3 linked regions of the Homo sapiens genome follow. The protein of the gene in region 1 interacts with the protein of each later gene in a pairwise test. Each region holds a gene or a part of one and is shown on either strand. Other genes may lie near its edges.

Region 1 (3,650 bases):
TAGAAATAGAACTGTTAGTGATAAATTCACTTAGGTTTTGTTTTTCTGAACATGTTTTTAAGGCTCATTCTTGAAGGACATTTTTGCTGGATACAGAATGCTAGGTTGGTAGTTCTGTTCTTTTAGCACTTTAAAAATAGTTCACTGCAGTCTTGATTCTGTTGTTGCTGCTAAAAAGTCAGCTGTCAATCTTATTACACCTTTGAAGTTTTTTTTTCTGTCCTTGGTTTTCAGTAGTTTGACTGATGTACTTAGGTAACATTTTCTTTTTCTTTGTAATCTTCATTGGGTTTTGTAGATTTTTAATGTGAGGGTTGGTACTGTGTCAGTTTCGGAAAATATTCAGTCATTATTTCTTTAAATACCACTTCTCCTGAGTTATGTCTCTTCCCTCAAAGGTTCCAGTTAACACTTACATTAGACCCTTTCACTTTATTCTGTTTTTTTGCTCAATTCTTTTTCAATCCATTTGTTTTTCCATACTTCATTCTGCGTATTTTCTTCTGACCTAGCTTTTTAGGTTATTAATTTTTTTCTTCAGCTGTGACTATTCTATGCCTAATTTCTTAATCTTGCCATTTAATTTCTTGACTTTATTAAGAATAGTTATTTCTAAGCTAAAAATATGAAAATCTTATTTGAGTCTTTTGGCTCTGTTTCTATTGTCTACTTTTTTGTGTTTAGCCGTAATTTTCATCTTGATGCCTGGTTGTTTTGGACATTGTGTATCAAAATTTTGTCCATGTTGTATACCAAAAAAAAAAAAGTCGTCATGATAATTTGAGGTTCTTCATGATTTTATATTTCTCCAGGAGAATATTTTTACAGTTAGGCTAGGGCGGATCATCCAGTCAGTGGCTGAGATGACTCTAACGTAGACTTCAGCCGTTGTAAAGATTGGTCTATTTTTGTTTTGTTCTTATTCTCAGATTGTAGCCTTTCAGAGTCCTTGATAAGAGCATAGGTGTTTTTCAGGACCTCTTCTCCTAAGCAGACTTTGGACATTAATTTTTGCTTAGCTTTATTGCCCTTGCTGTTTTCTCTTTCAGAATCAGTCATTGTCTTGAGGATAGAGCAGTGCCAGATGTCTGGTCTGCCTCTTTCCTTCCTTCTTCCAGATTTTGGCCCTACTAATTCTCACTGCCTTGATATCTTACCAGTGTCTTCAAACACATATTTATATTTTTTTACATTTTGTTCAGTTTTTCTGATTGCACTTGGTTGTACTAAAAGAACCTAGTCAGCCATTCCAGAAATACATGAAGTTGTTTTGTTTTTATTATTGTAGTGGTGATTGTTGGTTTGTACTTTTGCTTTCACAAACTATTTCAAAGCAATTTTGATTTTTAGGGTTATATTTCCCAGACCTCTACTTTCACTGCCCATTGCCCTCTGCTGTTAGTGGTGATTAGGTGAAGAGTTTGAGAAATGTAATGGAAAGGGCGTGGGTTTTTTTTTTTTGTTTTTTTTTTTTTGAGACAGAGTCTTGCTCTGTCACCCAGGCTGTAATACAGTGGCATGATCTCGGTCCTGCAGTCCTGCCTCCCAGGTTCTAGTGATTCTTTTGCCTCAGTCTCCCAGGTAGCTGGGATTACAGGCACGTACCACAACGCCTGGCTAATTTTTGTATTTTTAGTAGAGATGGGGTTTCACCATGTTGGCCAGGCTGGTCTTGAACTCCTGACCTCAGGTGATCCACCCGCCTTGGCCTCCCAAAGTGCTAGGATTACAGGCGTGAGCCACCACGCCCAGCCGGGCATGGGCTTTTTAAGCACACAGACCTACATTCAAACTGTGGCTCCTTCTGATTGTGTCAGCCTATATGAATTAATTACCTGTTTAAAATTACCTTTTTAAAATTTCTCTTTCCTCATCTGCAGACGGGTTTAGTGAGAATGAAAAAGGACATTGAAATTAAATTTTATTTAAAATGAAATAATGTATGGACAGCTTCTGGTATATAATAAATGCTTAGTAAACTTATTTTTTTAATTATCTTGAGGAATAGGAAACTAGAGTTAAGACCAATCTTTTAAGGAATTTAATAGAAGTTTATAACTTCACCATATAGTAATTGTTAACAAAAGCTTAAAAAGGGCGTTTATGTCAATGTTTGGTTGTGGGGCAGTTCAACAGGCATCTGTGTCCCAGGTACCCTACTTAATCTCGTTAATATTATAGATTCCATCCAAAATCTAGATCTTGCAGTATAGAGCAGAGGTCAGCAAACTTTTTCTTTTTTTTTTCTGAGATAGTTTCACTCTTTTGCCCAGGCTGGAGTTGAGTGGTGCAGTCTTGGCACACTGCAACCTCCGCCTTCTGAGTTCAAGTGATTCTCCCACCTTATTCTTACCAATTCTTCCCAAGTATTCACCTTATTCTTCCCAAGTAGCTGTGACTGCAGGCATATGCCACCATGCCCAGCTAATTTTTTACCATGTTGTCCAGGCTGGTCTCAAGCTCCTGACTTCAAGTGATCCACCCGCCTTGGCCTCCCAGAGTGCTGGGATTACAGGCATGAGCCACTGTGCCTAGCCAGCAAACTTTTTCTATAAAGGGCTAGGTACGGTTTTGTGAGACATATTGCCTCTATTGTAGCTATTCACTCTGCTGTTTTAGGGCAAAAGTAGCCGCAGTCAGTATATAAATGAATGGGCATGGGTGTGTTCAAATAAAACTCTATTTACAAAAACAGGTAGCAGGCCAGGTTTGGTCCATGGGTCCTCAAACTGTGCTGACCCTAGTCCTCCACAAGCTACAAGTGTTTTTTTACGTTTATAAAGGATTGTTTAAGAAGAAGATGCAACAGAAACCACATGAGACCCAAAAAGCCAAAAATATTTTATTTCTAGTTCTTTACAGAAAGGGTTTGCTAACTTTTGGGTTGGAGAAGGGGTGGTGGTTGCTACCAGAGAAAAAGAAGTAGACTTCCGTACTCAGAGTTAACAGCAAAGAAAGAAAAACAACACGACAGGAAGCCCTGGATCCACAAAGGATCCTGGTGGGAAGAATAGGAAATTCTGTGTGCAATACTGACATACTCATCCATACCCCACCCCAACTGTGACTGTCCTACTAATTAATCTGGTTTTATGGATTTTCCATAATGTGCTGTTTTAGCAGCAAATAGAGGGGTAAACTCATAGATAATAGCTAAATACTGTTAGAAATTAACTTTCCGTTATAGCTAAATGTTACCAGAATTTTTACTCCGGTTATGTATACAGCTTTGATTTTATAACATCCTGCTAATTTTTGTTCTTACAGAAATACACTTTCGGGAAATGGCCTCTAAATCCTGGCTGAATTTTTTAACCTTCCTCTGTGGATCAGCAATAGGATTTCTTTTATGTTCTCAGCTATTTAGTATTTTGTTGGGAGAAAAGGTTGACACCCAGCCTAATGTTCTTCATAATGATCCTCATGCAAGGCATTCAGATGATAATGGACAGAATCATCTAGAAGGACAAATGAACTTCAATGCAGATTCTAGCCAACATAAAGGTATGGTTTACTTTATTAAGCAGTAAACATAAGCAGTATTTTAGTCTAAATTTTGTCATATTCCTGTCTGTATCTGTTAATTAAAATGGGCTATATATTCCAGATATTAAAAATAATTCTTGGTTTGCCTCAAGAGAAGGGAATTG
Region 2 (3,750 bases), on another chromosome or scaffold:
CCCTGTCTCAGAGGCAGGTGACGAGAAGGGGAGGAGGTATCTCCATCCAGCCCATCAACCAACTCCAAACCCTGTGCTCATTCTAGACCCTCCCCAACACCTCCTTGCCCTTATTCCCTGTCAATTTGCCTCTCTGTAGGTCTCTGCTTGCCCCGCTCTGTTGGACCTGTCAAGACCCTCTTTGTCTCCTGCCACAGCCTCCCTTCAGCTTTCTCCATCCAACACCAGCCCTGATTTTAGAATATCGCCCTACCTAAAACCCACCAATGAACAAGAATGGCAAATTATTTACCCTTGTGAAGGCTGGGTAATAGGAACATGGAGGATTATTTTATTATTCTCATTACGTTTGTGTATGCTTGAAGTCTTTCATAATAAAACGACTCTCCGACGACCTCCAGGGATCTCAGGGTAAAGTCCGAAGTCTGCAGACTGGCATTCAAGACCCCTCAGGATTTGTCTCTACCCAGTTTAACCAGCTAACCTCCTGGCACTCACCATGCTGCAGCCTGTTTTCCCAGCCTTTGGAACTCAAGTCTCTCTTGCAGCCCTAGTTTTACCCCATGCATCTTCTTTTTACAGAACACATTTCCCCTTGTGCCCTGCCTAGAAAACACCTCCTAATCCCTTGGAAATCTAATGCAAATGATCCCTGGTCTGGGTCACCTTCCCTACCTTCTGGGGGCAGGGAAGAGGGGGCCTCCTCAGTCCTGATATACAACAAATACCCAGTATGTGTTTAGGAGAGACCAGAATGTCTTGGCTAATAGAACGTGTGCAATATTTACTTGAACTTAGGCAAGTAGGGTAATCTTTCTTGGCTTCTGCTTCTGTCTCTATAAAATGAAGATAATAGCGGTACTTATCTCACAAGGCTGGGGTAAAGATTCAGCGGTATTCTCTGTGTAAACAGTTTAACACAGTACCTGGCAGAGAGAGGGGGAGAAAGAGGGAGAGAGGGAGAGATGCTGACTGACTTACAGACAGACATACTTCAATCAAAGAATATAGTGGGTAATTATGTGGCTTGTCTTAAATGAAATGCTTCCAAATCCCACAGGGAAAGCACTGCCGCTTAGCTCTTCCTGGGAGCTAGAGAAATTCGTGGAAAATCGTTGACATTAAAGTCACGATTCCTTTCTCGGGCTCAGGGGCTATTCATACTTTGGAGGGTTTTCAGAAGTCGAGGGGAGTCCCGGGCCCTCCTATTTGGAAGAATCGGAAGGATAGTGCAGGGTCTGTGCCTGGGAGCTGGCCCGAAATCAGGGGGCTAGGAAGGCACGGGGTTTGCACGAAAATCAGCCCCGGTGACAATCCCCAGTCTGTGAGCTCTCGGTGGACTCGGGGCCCCAGGGGTGGGAACCCGGAGTGAGAAAATCTGAGTGGGGTCTGGTGCACGGCCCCCCACCTGCCAGCCCCGCTCCCTGGGCTGCGGCGGCCTCGTGCGTCACGGGCGCAGGCGGGGGCCGAGGGGAGGGCGGCACCGCAAGGTGAGGGCACCGCGCTGCCTTAAGACGCCGCGCGCCCCCGCTGCCTCTCAGAGCTTGCAGCGCGGCGCGCTGGCCGGACGTGCGGGCACAGACGCTGTGCCCCGCTCCTGCCGCGCCCGCAGCGCCCGCTGCCCCGTGCCAGCTCGCAGCCGCCCGAGCCCCGAGAGGCGGCCGGGACGAGCGCGAGGAGCCCCGAAGGACCTGCACGCGGCGCCCGCGACGCCACGTCTGCAGCAGCAACAGGTAAGCAGCCCGGCCCTACTCCGGGCTCCGTGGCCCCCAGCACCCGGCAGGGCCCCGAGCCTGGGAGCCCACGACGCCCCCTCTGAAGCGTCCCGACGGCTGCTGAGCTACCAGGCGCGGTGGCCCGCGGTGCGGCCCCTTCTCGCCTTTCCCTAGCCATCCTCCCGCCCTCGCGTTTTCTCTCTCACTTTTTCTCGTGCGTTCTTTTCCCCCTTCCTCTCCATTCTCTCGTTTTTTCCTCATCCTTTCCCTCTTCCTCTGCTTGTTCTCTTTTCTTATTATTTTTTGCTTTTTCTGTCTGCGTCTCTCCCAGTCTGTCTTGCTCTCTCATTCTCTCTCACTCTCACGCTCCCATTTCTTCTTTTTTCTTTCTTTCTCCCTCTCTGTTGCTCACATTCTCTCTGTCTCTCTGTATGTATCTCATTCTTTCGCTGTCTCTCATTTCCTTTTTGTCTCTCTGCCTCTCAGTCTCTCTCGCCCTGCCTTTCTGACTCTCTCCACCACCCTGCACCCCTGCCTCTTTTGCCTTTCTCCCCAGCTCCTTTCCCACTCCCCTCGGCTGTCACCGACACCAAGCAGATCCGGAGAAAGCAAAGAGGATGCCAAATTGGGAATGGGGATGGGGCTGTGGAGGGTGAGGGTAGGGGAGCTCAATAGGCATCCTCTCTGCATTTTCCAGTCTCCATTGCACTGCTGATAAACTAAGGGTTTTTTAACCAAAGCCCGCGGTGGCCGGGGCGGCAGGTGGTTTCCACGGCAAAATAAAGTCCACAGGGAGACAGAGATCCAAAGAGACAGAGATCCAGCCAGAGAAAAACCAAGGTGAGGGGCCATGGGAAAAAGATGTAGAGAAATAGAGATGCGCACACACTCAAAGATACAAAGCAAGTGTTTAGCCAGAGTCCTGGGGTGACAGGAAAGTGAAGGACAGAGAAACCAACGAGAGAGTGCACACACTAAAGAGATAGCTTGAGAGACAGGTGAGACAAGCAGTAGAGTGTTAGAGATCAATGGAGAGAGAGGCAGAGTAATGCAGAGAGAACTTAGGCAGGGAGAGACAGAAACCACACGGAGAGACACAGAGACAAGAGGGTCCGAGAAAGACAGAGCAAGCGCACACGTGCCAGTGAGAGACAGAAGGAGACACCCAGAGAACCCGAGGGAGACGCAGAAACAAGAGAGTTGGAGAGACACGGAGACGGGCAGAGACACAGCGAACGACATTGAACAGGTGCGCTAGGGACCCACAAAGATGAACTGCTGGGGAAATAGACTGAGAGAGAAATGGAGAGACAAGAGAGCACTAGGGAAAGACGGAGACACACATGAACTAGCGAGCGACACAGTGACAGGCAGAGACACAGAGAGACAGAATGGATCAGAAAGAGACTGAGGGAGAGACGGGCAAGACTGTGAGAAAGATAGGGAGCGAGAGCGCAAGCCCTGCAGAGAAAGTGCGCTAGCGAAAGAGACACACACAGAGAGACTGAGTGACAAACAGAGTGGAAGAGATAAATGAGAGTAACAGGAAAGAGACAGCGTGCACGTGCTATCGAGAGACGGAGAAACAGAGACAGACATAAGTGAGAGACAAGGATGAGAAAGAATCAGGAAACGGTGAGACACATACAGACACACAACCCGAGAGATAAAGAAAAAAAGTGCGCTAGCGAGAGACACTGGAGAAGAGACAGAAACTGACGGTCGTAAACAGACAGAAACAGAGAGCGCACGCGCATGCGCTAGCGCTAGCGACCAAAACTCCCCGGAGCCAGAGACAGTGTGAGAGACAAGCAGAGAAAGCGCACGCACGCACGCGCCAGCAGGAGAAACAGATGAGAGGAAATCAGAGCCCTGGAGAGAGACAGGCAGACAGATCTGGAGAGTCCGGAAAGGAGCCATAGAAGCTGCCCGCACTGGGGATGGAGCCGTGCGGAAACCCGGGGTAGGGGGTCCTGCAGCGTCCTTGCTGGGCGCGGAGGCTTCTCCCCTTGACGGGTGACTAACTCTGCCTGCG
Region 3 (3,650 bases), on another chromosome or scaffold:
GGAGGTAAGGAACCTGAAAAAGAGGGAAGAAGGGGTTTTTGTTGGGGGATTGGGAGGGCAATGGGAATGAGTCTCACAAGCTTCCTGACAGGGGACCCAAGCCACACCACCTGCCCCCTCTAGCTTACAGCTAACTGGTTGTTGGGGCCTCTTCTCTATCTTCTTTTTCCAACAGCTACCAAGTTAGAAGTCTAAATGAAACCTTTCAGTGATGTCCATAATGGAAAACAGAGGCAACTTTATTCCATGAAGAATGAGACCAGGAGTGTATGTTTAGGTGAAGAGGGGTAGAGGAAGGGGAGAAAGTATCCATGGAACAGAGGAAGACCCTCGTTAGAGCATAATGGAGCCAAGTCTGAGGTCCAAACTTGATCTTGCCACTCATTAGATCTGTAACTCTGGATAGAGCAATAAATAAACACAACAGCGCTGGTCAAGTTTTCATATCCTTAAAATGGAGGTATAGATTCTTTTCCATGAGAAAGTCTGAGAGTGCAGGAGGATGATGTATGTGGCCAATAGTGCACTCTGAATAAATGCATTTCATGTGAAAACTCTTTGAACCTTGCTCCCACCTGACCCATCTGGAGTCCTGATGACTCTTCCTCCTTCCCCATGCAGGTTCCTCTGGCTCACAATATTTTTGGTCTCATTGGCCCCAATGCAGGGCTTGGCCTTGCCATAGGTAAGAAGTGCCCTCAAAGAAAACAATAAGCCCCTGCATGTTGGCTTTGGGTCTGATGCCTTTCCTCCCCCTTTTCTCATCAGAGGAGGTAGGTGCAGAGGCAGAAGGATCAGGAGGGCAGCTGGCAGGGTTGTGGAGAGATGAGCTCGTAATTCCCACCTGGAACAGGTGTTAGTCCGAGGCAGAAGACAGCAGACAAAGCAAATGGACTAAATGGAGGAGGAGAGGCGGGGTGGTACTAACTGTGGGTGGGGCTGACTGTGTCCTGTTTGCTCTGGCCACAGGCATGGTGGATTCTTCTATGATGCCCATCATGGGGCACCTGGTGGATCTACGCCACACCTCGGTGTATGGGAGTGTCTACGCCATCGCTGATGTGGCTTTTTGCATGGGCTTTGCTATAGGTATGTTGGCAGGACCTGGTGCCCCACTTTCCCCTGTCTACTCTTTACCAGCTGGAAGTGCAGCCAGGAAGCTATCCTCCTAGGGTTCTGGAGATCTTTGACGCTGAGACATCCTCTGGGTCACCCACTGCCCCTAGCATAGTGTCCTACGTGGAGGATGCTCCATATGGAGGCTCCATAGACACTTATGACTTTGATGTATCCCTCCCAGGTCCATCCACCGGTGGTGCCATTGTAAAGGCCATCGGTTTTCCCTGGCTCATGGTCATCACTGGGGTCATCAACATCGTCTATGCTCCACTCTGCTACTACCTGCGGAGCCCCCCGGCAAAGGAAGAGAAGCTTGTAAGGAGCACCGACTGTTAAAAGAGAAATTCACTTCTGTTTCTTTCCATCATCTCTCTCATTCCCTTTCATCCTGGGCTGTTATTTCCTCCCTCTATTGCTCTGTTGATACTCTCTCTGCTTTGCCATGTTTCCCAATCCCCTTTCATCTTCATATTTCTTTTGTGCACTTCCTTAATTTCCCTTCTCTAAGTAACCACTTCCCTCTTTCTGGGGCTATCAGGAAGGGTCTTCAGTAGAGAAGGGAAATGGGGGCAGAGGACCATCAAAGACATCCTGTAGTTACTGTTCTTAGCTTGCTAGTTACTAGCAAGATGTGAGTTACCAAGTTAACTCCCTCATAAGTGGGCAGAATTCCATTGGCACATCCGTTCATCCACTCATTCACTCTAGTGCAACATTATCCTTACCAGGTCACTTTTTTTTTTTTTTTTTGATGGAGTTTCACTCTTGTTGCCCAGGGTGGAGTGTAATAGTGTGATCTCGGCTCACCACAACCTCTGCCTCCCGGGTTCAAGAGATTCTCCTGCCTTGGCATCCCAAGTAGCTGGGATTACAGGCATGTACCACCATGTCTGGCTAATTTTTTGTATTTTTAGTAGAGATGGGGTTTATCCATGTTGGTCAGCAGGTCACGTTTTTAAAAGTACAAAAACCCCAGGGAAGAGATCCATACCATAGGATTTTCTTTAATAAAGCACTTTCCTCTTACTGCAGCACAAACATCCTGAGGGCCTGATGGGTTTGGGATACCGACAGAGGCTGCTCAAGGGAACAAAAGAAGACATGAAGGTGTGATAGGGAGTGGTGGTGATTCCATTTGGCTTCCTGCTGTAACTTTCACTACCACTGTTAAATTCAGTTAAAAGCAAATGAGATACTTGTCCTGACAAGGGTTGATATACTAGGTACCCCGGGAGGCTGGTGCATGTACATGCAGAGGGTCCTATGCATGTTTCTTGAGTACTTAGCAATGCCAGCCTTGGAAGAACTAGTGGGAGGACGGAATGAGGAGATTGGTAAAAAAAAGATGTGCGGTGGTTGGCCGGGCGCGGTGGCTCACGCCTGTAATCCCAGCACTTTAGGAGGCTGAGGCGGGCGCATCACGAGGTCAGGAGATCGAGACCATTCTGGCTAACATGGTGAAACCCCGTCTCTGCTAAAAATACAAAAAATTAGCCTGGCGTGGTGATGGGCGCCTGTAGTTCCAGCTACTCTGGAGGCTGAGGCAGGAGAACGGCATGAACCCGGGAGGCGGAGCTTGCAGTGAGCCGAGATTGCGCCACTGCACTCCAGCCTGGGCAACAGAGCGAGACTCCGTCTCAAAAAAAAAAAAATGATAATAATGTGCAGTGGCTTCTCTTCTTGCCTCTCTCTGCAGGCTATTCTGAGTCAGGACTGCCCCATGGAGACCCGGATGTATGCAACCCAGAAGCCCACGAAGGAATTTCCTCTGGGGGAGGACAGTGATGAGGAGCCTGACCATGAGGAGTAGCAGCAGAAGGTGCTCCTTGAATTCATGATGCCTCAGTGACCACCTCTTTCCCTGGGACCAGATCACCATGGCTGAGCCCACGGCTCAGTGGGCTTCACATACCTCTGCCTGGGAATCTTCTTTCCTCCCCTCCCATGGACACTGTCCCTGATACTCTTCTCACCTGTGTAACTTGTAGCTCTTCCTCTATGCCTTGGTGCCGCAGTGGCCCATCTTTTATGGGAAGACAGAGTGATGCACCTTCCCGCTGCTGTGAGGTTGATTAAACTTGAGCTGTGACGGGTTCTGCAAGGGGTGACTCATTGCATAGAGGTGGTAGTGAGTAATGTGCCCCTGAAACCAGTGGGGTGACTGACAAGCCTCTTTAATCTGTTGCCTGATTTTCTCTGGCATAGTCCCAACAGATCGGAAGAGTGTTACCCTCTTTTCCTCAACGTGTTCTTTCCCGGGTTTTCCCAGCCGAGTTGAGAAAATGTTCTCAGCATTGTCTTGCTGCCAAATGCCAGCTTGAAGAGTTTTGTTTTGTTTTTTTTCATTTATTTTTTTTTTTAATAAAGTGAGTGATTTTTCTGTGGCTAAATCTAGAGCTGCTAAAAGGGCTTTACCCTCAGTGAAAAGTGTCTTCTATTTTCATTATCTTTCAGAAACAGGAGCCCATTTCTCTTCTGCTGGAGTTATTGACATTCTCCTGACCTCCCCTGTGTGTTCCTACCTTTTCTGA

The links.
Region 2: the proteins of C1GALT1 (region 1) and GPR101 interact in a two-hybrid assay, tested with the Homo sapiens proteins (one large-scale study listed by BioGRID).
Region 3: the proteins of C1GALT1 (region 1) and SLC18A1 interact in a two-hybrid assay, tested with the Homo sapiens proteins (one large-scale study listed by BioGRID).

The regions. Positions count from the first base shown.
Region 1 is NC_000007.14:7,231,036-7,234,685, forward strand, and holds part of C1GALT1 (glycoprotein-N-acetylgalactosamine 3-beta-galactosyltransferase 1), read left to right. Parts: intron 1-3,267; 5' UTR 3,268-3,284; coding exon 3,285-3,504; intron 3,505-3,526; exon of another isoform or gene 3,527-3,650. UniProt on the Homo sapiens protein: Glycosyltransferase that generates the core 1 O-glycan Gal-beta1-3GalNAc-alpha1-Ser/Thr (T antigen), which is a precursor for many extended O-glycans in glycoproteins.
Region 2 is NC_000023.11:137,031,785-137,035,534, reverse strand, and holds the start of GPR101 (probable G-protein coupled receptor 101), read left to right. Parts: upstream 1-1,539; 5' UTR 1,540-1,733; intron 1,734-3,750. UniProt on the Homo sapiens protein: Orphan receptor.
Region 3 is NC_000008.11:20,145,042-20,148,691, reverse strand, and holds part of SLC18A1 (chromaffin granule amine transporter), read left to right. Parts: intron 1-621; coding exon 622-685; intron 686-969; coding exon 970-1,089; intron 1,090-1,300; coding exon 1,301-1,434; intron 1,435-2,815; coding exon 2,816-2,929; 3' UTR 2,930-3,650.